Regions from separate parts of the Homo sapiens genome. Here all the other regions are linked to region 3. The links come from fine-mapping of genetic effects on gene expression. A gene starts in region 3. Each other region holds a variant in brackets. All regions are shown on one strand. Distances are from middle to middle. Region 1 overlaps CCDC85C (coiled-coil domain containing 85C). Region 2 overlaps CCDC85C (coiled-coil domain containing 85C). Region 3 holds the start of CCDC85C (coiled-coil domain containing 85C).

Region 1 (2,787 bases), 79 kb before region 3:
GCACTCACGGCCCGCAGGTGGAGGTCAGATCAAGGAAAGCCCCCTCCCCACCCACCAGGTACCAAAAAGAGGAAGAGGCTACAGCCCCCACCCCTAGGCCCAGCACTCACCCTCCCCCAACCATGAGTGACACCCCTCCCCCCACCCCATCAGAGCCACCCATGCCTCTCTGGGTCACCTCTCCTGAGAGATGTACCCCTAGCTCCACTTAAGGGCGAAAATTCCAAACCACCTGATTTTCTTGGCCAGGACTCTGCAACAGTAAGAGAGTTACAAAATCTTCTCCAATGGAGAATGCATTCTAAGCCAGCACACACTCTGAATGCGTGCGTGCACATACACACAGTCTGACTACTGGGCCACACAGCCAGGAAGGGTACACCTGGGATTGGAACAGCTGCCCTCCCCTTCAGCCGGCCCTGCCCTGCCCTGCTCAGCTTCTGTTTGGACTCCGGCGTCCCTTCCTCCACATCCTCTCTGGCCCTCGACCAAATGGGCTCCCACGTGCTGTTACCGAAAACGCAGGTTTGTGCTGCCGTCCCCTCCCCTCCCCCAGATAATTTCCCTGGGAGGAGATGTGTGTGCGTGAGCGTGAGGGAGGTTTTTAATTAGCTGCACGCAATTCCCACCCTTGCCTTCGGTGAGCCTCTATAAACATTTGCATGTCCATAGAACTTTATTAGCAAGCCACAAAGCCAGGCAGGAAAAACACACAATCTCTCATTAAGGGGCAATGTGACTAATGGCGCATCAAATGAGTAACCATTATTGCACTTAAATCCAAATTAAAAATCCTGCTATGAGACAGGTCGCTGCCTTTGCAGAATGAGATTCCCTAGGATTTCCCCGAGGAGGGGAAGCAGGAGCTGAAATCACCTGCTGGGCTTGTTCTGCACACAGAGAAGAGCCCCAGCTAAGGAAGGTGCTGGCCCTTCCTCAGGGGGAGGCAGGGGGTCCACTGCCGCTCCCCAGAAACACCCACCTGCCCAGTCTTCCTCGGGTGGCTCCCTCAGGACCCAGGGAGAAGGGATCTTACACACAGAGCTGCCAGCTCAGAGCTCAAACAAGATTTCCCGAATCCTTAACAGGGTGGGGCCAGCCCTGCCAAACACTCAGCGTGGCCCCTTCCACCCTGGCCAGGCCCAATCCGCATTACTCACTTCTAGAGCCTCCAGAGGGCAGCATGAGTGTCCTGGACTAGGGAGGAAGAGACCCAGGAGGTTGCAGGGCCTCCTTTTCCACTGAGGACCGGAGTTCAGGACACCTCCAGCCTGTATCCAGGGCCTTCACTGCAACACTGCCCAACTCAGGGCCCAGCGAGGACTCGCTGGGTGAACTCCAGTTGTTCCCCAGCCCTTTCTGGGCCTCTGCAGTGCGGCCCAGCCTTCTCCCCAGAGGGGAACCCCGTCCTGCAGCGAATGCCTGCCTGCAAAGCTGCAGGGGGCCTATGTGGGGCCACCCTGGGGTGACCCCTAGGGAGCATTGTCAGAGGGGATGCTGAACAGAAAGAGGATAAGACATGGA[A/G]ACAGAGCCCACCCACCCCAGCCTGCCCACCTGAGGCTGCTTGTTTGGAAAGGATGGGTGGGGTGGCTGCAGGCAGGAAGCGCCTTTCTGGGCTGTGCTTAGGGGAGCTGCTGTCACCCTGCTTCCTGCTCCCAGAGAGCTTTTGGGCCCTCAAATGTGCTGCATCGGTTATGTGTCCGAGAGGCACAAACAGAGCGCCTCCTGTGTGCCAGGCACCACGCTGTGCCCCATCAGGGAGGCTGCAACTAAAGGGGAGTGAGGGCTGGGGGTGCGGGTGGAGGCAGGCACTGAAGAGGGGGTGCCCTGTGTCCCCACCTGGGCAGCCTGCCCGCAAGTGACCACTTGGACCACCAGACTCGAAGCCCCAGGCTGATTCATACAGAATGCCCTGGGAAGGAGTCCTCGTGGAGGGGCCACCTGGCGCGACTCTGGACCGGTGTCTCAGTGCTCGGTGCAGGGATGGGTGGGGACCTGCGAGGCTCCTCCCTCCTCAGCACCCTCCAGGATGGCTGACAGGTGAGCATGGGCCCTTGGCACCGTGTGGCACAGCACAGCTCGGCTCAGCCGGACAGCCAGGTGTGGCCAGGGTCCAGGACCACAGTGGACAGCAACGCAGCCACATCCCTCTCCCCCTCCCAAATTTAGGTCATGCCAATGACTGTGTCTGACTTGGGAGACACTGTGGGGCTCAGGGAGAGGACCCCAACACAGGCCTCCCCCAGCCCAGACTCTCCTGGGTCAGGTGCCCTCCTGCTTCTGGCCTGTGGGGGCTCCAGGGGATCTGTCACAAGAGGCCAGTTTCACCGCAGCTGAAGAGCTTGAAGGTGCCGTCTGCAGGGAGGGGCCTACATCCACCCTCAGAGCAATGGGAACCTGGGCAGGAAAAAGCCACATGAGCCCAGGCCCCGTGCAGCTCCTGCAGGCACTAACAATGCCTCTGCCCTGAGCGTGTGCTAAGATGGTCTCCAGGTCCCCGTGGTCACTGTGCAGTCCCCAGGCTGGGATGGGAGCCAGGTTGGAGGACAGGGAGCTGGAGAGAGCTCCTTCCAGTTCACATTTCCCACCAATCCCACTCCCACAGATAAGCCATCATCCCAGGGGCTACGGAGGCGAGAGGTGAGACCCAGGGAGCAAGGCCACGGCCCAGTGACCACCCCGTCCCCAAGACCTGGCGACCTCCCTCCAGGAAGAGGAAGTGGGGGCAAGGCCAGGGCCCAGGGAACACCCCGTCCCCAAGACCTGGCGACCTCCCTCCAGGAAGAC
Region 2 (2,787 bases), 86 kb before region 3:
CCCGACCCCAGGCCTCAGTCTTGTTAGGTGCAGTAGCTCAGGGATGGCAGACAGGTGACACACTTATGACTGCCACCTCTGAGTTCAACCTCACAGTGCTCCAGGCAGCCATGGTCACCCAGCCACCCACACACAGATGAAACCTCCCACCCCTGCCACTTGGATACCCCTAGGTGCAAAGGTCCCACAGTCTCACAGTGCACCCAGCATCTGAGGACTTCTGAGGGAGCGGGTAGTGGCCCTCACCTTCATGGCATGCACGACAGCCTCGGGCTTCTGTCCTGCAGGGCTGTAGCCAGCAGAGGGGGGCGAGGGCAGCTCAGGTGCGGGGCAGGCCGGGCCCTGGGGAAGGCAATCACACATCTCAGCTCACCCTGGCTGGCTCCCACAGGAATGACCGGTGGCTCAGACAAGGCCCCCATTCTGAGGGGCCAGGGCCCAGGCAGGAGGAAAAGGGGACCGGGGTGAGGCAGAGGAGGCAGGTGTGAGGATGGAGACCCAAGGAGCCCACAGCCAGTCTGGCCAGTCCCGCCCACCAGGTCTTCTGCAGATGAAATGGTCCCTGATAGCACAGAGGCAAGAGGGGCAGTCCAGGGCCCACCCACACCTCTCAGGCTCCTCTACAACACCCCACAGATAAGACCTAGCGTCTGTTTTGCAAGGAAAGTAAGTTCAGCCTAGGGAGGGCAAGAGACCCAGATCACAGCAAGACCAGGAAGGTCTGGACTTAACCCTGGCACCTGACTCCAAACTCCCTTCCCCTGCCCACCCTGGAGCCACCGGTGGGCGAGGCCGGCTTCGCCCTGAGCACTCCCTGGGGCCTGCCTCCCAGCTGCCACCTCCCAGCCCTGCGGGATGAATTGGCTGCCAGGTGCCCAGCTCCCACATCAGGCCTTGGGGAGGGGACCCAGCCTCTGTCAGAAGCTGCGTGTCTACCCAGGGGCAGGCAGTCCCACCCCCAGCTTCCTGCCTGGAAGGGTCCATGTGGCTGGGAAGCCAGGTGCAGGGCTTCTGCCTCGGGCTGCAGTGGGGACCACAGGGGCCCAACAGAAACCAGCAGGTCACAAGATGCTGGGAGAGGCTTGGGAGGAACTTACAAGTGCCCAGAGCCAGACAGAAAACACCCAGCGGTGCCCTGTGGGCCCTGGAAGCGGGGTTTCCAGGACATCTTCGGGGCTCCCACCTCTGGCAATCCTTGGGCCAACCATGGAAGCTGAGTCTGCCGCCCTCTCTGTAAATGGGGCCCTGATGACGCCTCCCAACGGCCTGGCAAGCTCAGGGAGCTGGGCTGGAATCCCACCCACCCAGGCCTGCATCATGGGGCCACCTAACACTGCAGGGCTGGGTTCTGCGACCCTCAGGACCTGGAACCCCCTGCAGGCCTGGCAGCCAACCCCTGGTGCCCTCCCCGCCCGCCCTGGCCTGGACCTGCTCCCAGGGCCTTGCAGGTTGACCGGCTCCCGCCTCCAC[A/G]TGGAGACCAGGCCCCACCCCTGAGGCTAGGGGGCCTGGGAGCTGCTACCTCCGGAGGCCCCCCGAGCCCTGGGGTCTAGGAAAGCGTCATTGAGGTGGGGCTCAACCCACGCTGAGCCTCGGTTTCCTCGTCTGGACAATAGAAAGGGTCCTCTGCCCCAGGGTGTGTGCAGACCCCTAACTCCAGCCCAGGCTGTTGGGTCTCTGTAGTGTAGGGAACCCAACAGGGACGCTGGGGATTCCCCCTGGGGCAACGCAAGGCGGCACTCCCCGCGCCAGACAGCAGGGGGCGCCAGTCGCACACATACGGCCCTGGGAGACCTGGGCACCTACACCTTCCTGCACCTTCCGCTGCAGAACACAGGCCATGTGCCAGCCGGCCCCTGGCACCTCTGGCCTCATCTGCACCAGGCCCCTGGGCTGCCTGTCCTGTTACAGCCCCCGGCTCTAGGGGGCTGGGATTTCTGCAGCACAGGCAGGAGGGAAGCCAGGAGCGTGGGGGTGGGCTGTGCAAGCCGCCCCTCTCCTGCCCGCCTCACTGGGCAGTGGTGGGTGCCAGCGAGGGCATGGCCCGGGATCCTGAAAGTGACACCAGGACTAGACAAAGCCCTAGTGTTACCTCCAGGGCATTCCCGGGGTGCAGGGGCCCCCACCTGTACTAGAACTCAGCCCCCTCGGGCCACACACACCTCCCACTGACTAGGTACCCACTTAGGGCAGATGGGCCCACTGAGTCCTTGCCACACTGCTCCCAGCAGGCACTATCTTTTTACATGTTCATACATGCCTTTTTTTTTTTTTTTTTTTTTTTTTTTTTTTTGAGTGAGAGGATCTCACTCTGTCGCCCAGGCTGAAGTACAGTGGCACCATCTCAGCTCACTGCAGCCTTGACCTCCCAGGCTCAAGCAATCCTCCCACCCCAGCTTCCAGCGTAGTTGGAACTACAGATGCACACCACCATGCCCAGCTTTTTTTTTTTTTTTTTGGTAGAGATGGGGTTTCATCATGTTGCCCAGGCTGGTCTTGAACTCCTGGACTCAAGCAATCCTCCTGTCTTGGCCTCCCAAAGTGATGGGATTATAGGCGTGAGCCACTGAGCCTGGCCTACATGCCCACTTTACAGACAAGGAGAGTGAGGCTAAGAGAATGGCTTGCCCAAGACCAAACAGCTTGTAAACAATGGGGCTGGGCGCCAAACCCAAGTCTGTGGGACTCCTGAGCTGGTGCCCAAAGTGAGGATACCAGTGTGCACCAGAGAGAACTGAAAATAGACATCCACAAAATACCTGTCGCCAAACGCTCAGAGCAACACCATTC
Region 3 (2,651 bases):
TGGAGTGGCGGCCGCATGAGTGGGACAGCCAGGGACCACCTCCTCTCGCCGCAGCCTGGGAAAAGGGCTGCAGCCAGGGAGACCCGCGCTGCCCGGCCCGTGTAGTCCTTACCGTGCAGGCCGTTGGGGATGCTGCGGTGGTGCGGCGGCGCCGACAAGTCGTCCAGGGACCGACGTGTGGCTCCTGCCTTGCCGTCGGGGGCCTTGTGCGGCCCGGGGGGCAGCAGCGGGGGTGGGACGTGGTGGTGGTGGTCGGGGCTGCCGCCGCTGCCCGCGCTGGACGTACTGCTGCCGTCGCCCACGTCGCGGGCCCCCGCGCCGGGCGCGCCACCCGACAGCGGCCCGCTCAGGCTGGCCTGGCTGTCGATGGAGCTGCGGGAGCCGGCGCCGCCCCCGCCGCCGCCGCCACCGCTTGCGGCCCCCGTCGCCGCCAGTGCCGCGCGCTCCTCGTCCAGCAGCAGCACCAGCTCCTTGAGCTCCAGGTTCTCGCGCAGCAGGGCCTCCTGGCGCGCCTCGAGCTCGCGCAGCTTCTGCTGCGAGCGGGCCACCTCGTGCCACACGGCGCCGGCCGCGTGGCGCCCGAAGCGCTGCCACTCGCGCGCCAGCTTGCGCCCCTTCTGCCGGTCGTCGTCGAGGAAGCAGCAGAGCTCGCGCAGCTCCTGGTTGTCGTCCTGCAGCCGCTGGTTCACGTCCTTGAGGCCGCGGATCTCCAGCAGGTGCTGCTGCAGCCGCCGGTTCACGTCGCGCATCAGGCCGCCGTGCTCCAGCATGAGGCCCACCTTCTCGCCCTCGGCGCGCCGCAGCCGCCGCGCCAGCTCCTCCTTGCTCCAGCGCAGCAGCTCCTCGTCCGGCACCTGGCTCAGCTCCTCCGACGCCGCCGCCGCCGTCGCCGCGGGCTTAGCCATGGCGGGGCCGTCACCGCGGCATCGCCCTCGCCCTCGCCCGGCCGGCGCTTCCCCGCGCCGGGGCTCCGCTGGGCCGGTCCGCGCGCGGGCGGGGGGCGGCCGGGGGCGCGTGCGGCCCGCCCCGCGCCGCCTGGCGCGTCCTCTCGCCGCGCCCGCCGGGGCCGCCCGGGAGCCCGCGCGCCTCGGGGTTGACGAGCGGAGGCGGCTGCTGCGTCGGCGGCCGCGGTGCCGGGCGCTCTCAGGGTTCTGGAGAAGCAGGCGGAGGCCCGCCCCCGGCCCAGCTCCCGGAGCCCCCGCCGCCCCGCCCACCCCGGGCGGAGAGTGGGCGGGTCTCCGAGGCCCGGCCCCGCCCCCGAGGGCGACTGGGGAGCAGAGGCGCGGCCCCCGCCGTCCCCCTGCGCGGTGCGCCCGCCCGTCCAGTGCCCTCTCAGAGGCGCGTTCCGGCCGCGGTCCCGCCCTCCCGGCCGGGCGATTGGGCCGCTCCGGGGGTGTGCGGGAGGGGCGGGGCGCGCGCGGGGGAAGCTGCGGCGGTGGTACGGTCCATCCGCGGGGTTTCCGACCCCCGCCCGCGGCCGGCTCCCGGCGGTTCAAGTTTCTGCGCCCGGAGGACGCGGCCTTAGCCAATCCCAGGGCTACAGGGCGCTTTTAAAATGCAGGTACGGCTGCGGGGAGGGGGACGGTGGGAAAGGTAGGGCCGGGCTTCCCTTAAAGGCGACGCGCGAAAATAGCAGTCGAGCCCCCTCCCCGGCCCGCGTCCCCGGTCCTCTTCCCTCTCCCCAGATAAACAAATACCCACGATCCGGGCGACGGCGCCCCTTCTCCCTCCCGGGGGCACCAGAGTTCAGGGCAGTCGGAGACACAGCGAACAATAGGACTGTGACATGGGGGTCGCTCTTCCCCGCAGCAGGGCGGCTCTTTGTCCCCTTCCCTGCCCCCAGGCTCCTCCGCCCCCGTCCCCACCCGGGTCCCCTGCCGGAGCACGCGGCGGGGCTGCGTCTCCACTCCTAGCCCAGGGCTGAGCTAAACGCTGGCGTCCGCGCCCCTGCAGGGCCAGGGCCTTGCCAGCCGCGTCCCGCAGCGCGGTCAGTACTCTCTGCCCCGATGGGGCGAGAGCTCCGGGAACCTGCCCCCTGCCCGGAGCGGCGCTCGGAGCCCCGCTCCACCTCCGCTCACTCGACCGCTAAATCCCTGGGATTCGGGAGATAATCTGCAATTCGCGGGGTGGAAACCACTGGGAAGGGTGGGAAGGTCTCCCACTGGGGCCTGAACGCCGGGGTCCGGGGGCGCCGAGCCGGCCACAGAACTCCCCACCGGCGGCCTCGCGGGACCCCCGGGCTTCCCACTGCCTGTAAGTCTGTCTCGTTATCCTCCGGTCCCCAAAGCGCATTTACGGCGCGTCTACCGCCAGCAGGCGGGGCGGGGCGGGGCGGGGGGGGGTCCCTCCCCCGGAACCTGCAACGAGATCAAATCCGCGCACGCGACAGTGAGCGGCCCACGGCCTGGAGCGCGCGCCCGCGCAGCAGCTGATGCCCCATTTACAGTTGCTAAGCCGTTCATTCAGCTGTGTACTCAGCGCCTACTCGCCGCGGGGCCTGCTCCAGCCCCGGGGGATTCTGCAGGGCACCGAACTGCCCTCTGCGGGGGACTTGGCGTCCTGGGAGCAGGATGGGGAGAAGATAGACGAGCTAGATCAGGATGAGACTTGTCTTAAGTGCTGTGCGGGGCATTAAGTCGAGCTGCTGTCAT

What was found. PIP is the estimated chance that this variant, and not a neighbour inherited with it, causes the effect.
Region 1: its variant is the best candidate, but not a certain one, in a credible set for the expression of CCDC85C in whole blood (TOPMed, PIP 0.63).
Region 2: its variant is the best candidate, but not a certain one, in a credible set for the expression of CCDC85C in whole blood (TOPMed, PIP 0.89).

What each region holds. Positions count from the first base shown.
Region 1 is chr14:99,523,884-99,526,670 of GRCh38, forward strand. All of the region lies in intron 2 of CCDC85C (coiled-coil domain containing 85C), which reads right to left. Among named protein-coding and RNA genes, the nearest start is that of CCNK, 44 kb to the left of the region's middle. The variant A/G (reference allele first, on the strand shown) is at 1,525.
Region 2 is chr14:99,516,842-99,519,628 of GRCh38, forward strand. It overlaps CCDC85C (coiled-coil domain containing 85C), which reads right to left. Exons shown (of 6, transcript NM_001144995.2): 4 at 247-342. Among named protein-coding and RNA genes, the nearest start is that of CCNK, 37 kb to the left of the region's middle. The variant A/G (reference allele first, on the strand shown) is at 1,471.
Region 3 is chr14:99,603,055-99,605,705 of GRCh38, forward strand. It overlaps CCDC85C (coiled-coil domain containing 85C), which reads right to left and starts at 1,153. Exons shown (of 6, transcript NM_001144995.2): 1 at 113-1,153. The coding sequence starts at 905. It also overlaps a transcript of HHIPL1 not described here. RefSeq lists enhancers at 1, 708-827 and silencers at 1,088-1,617, 1,758-1,897, 1,958-2,027, 2,208-2,357.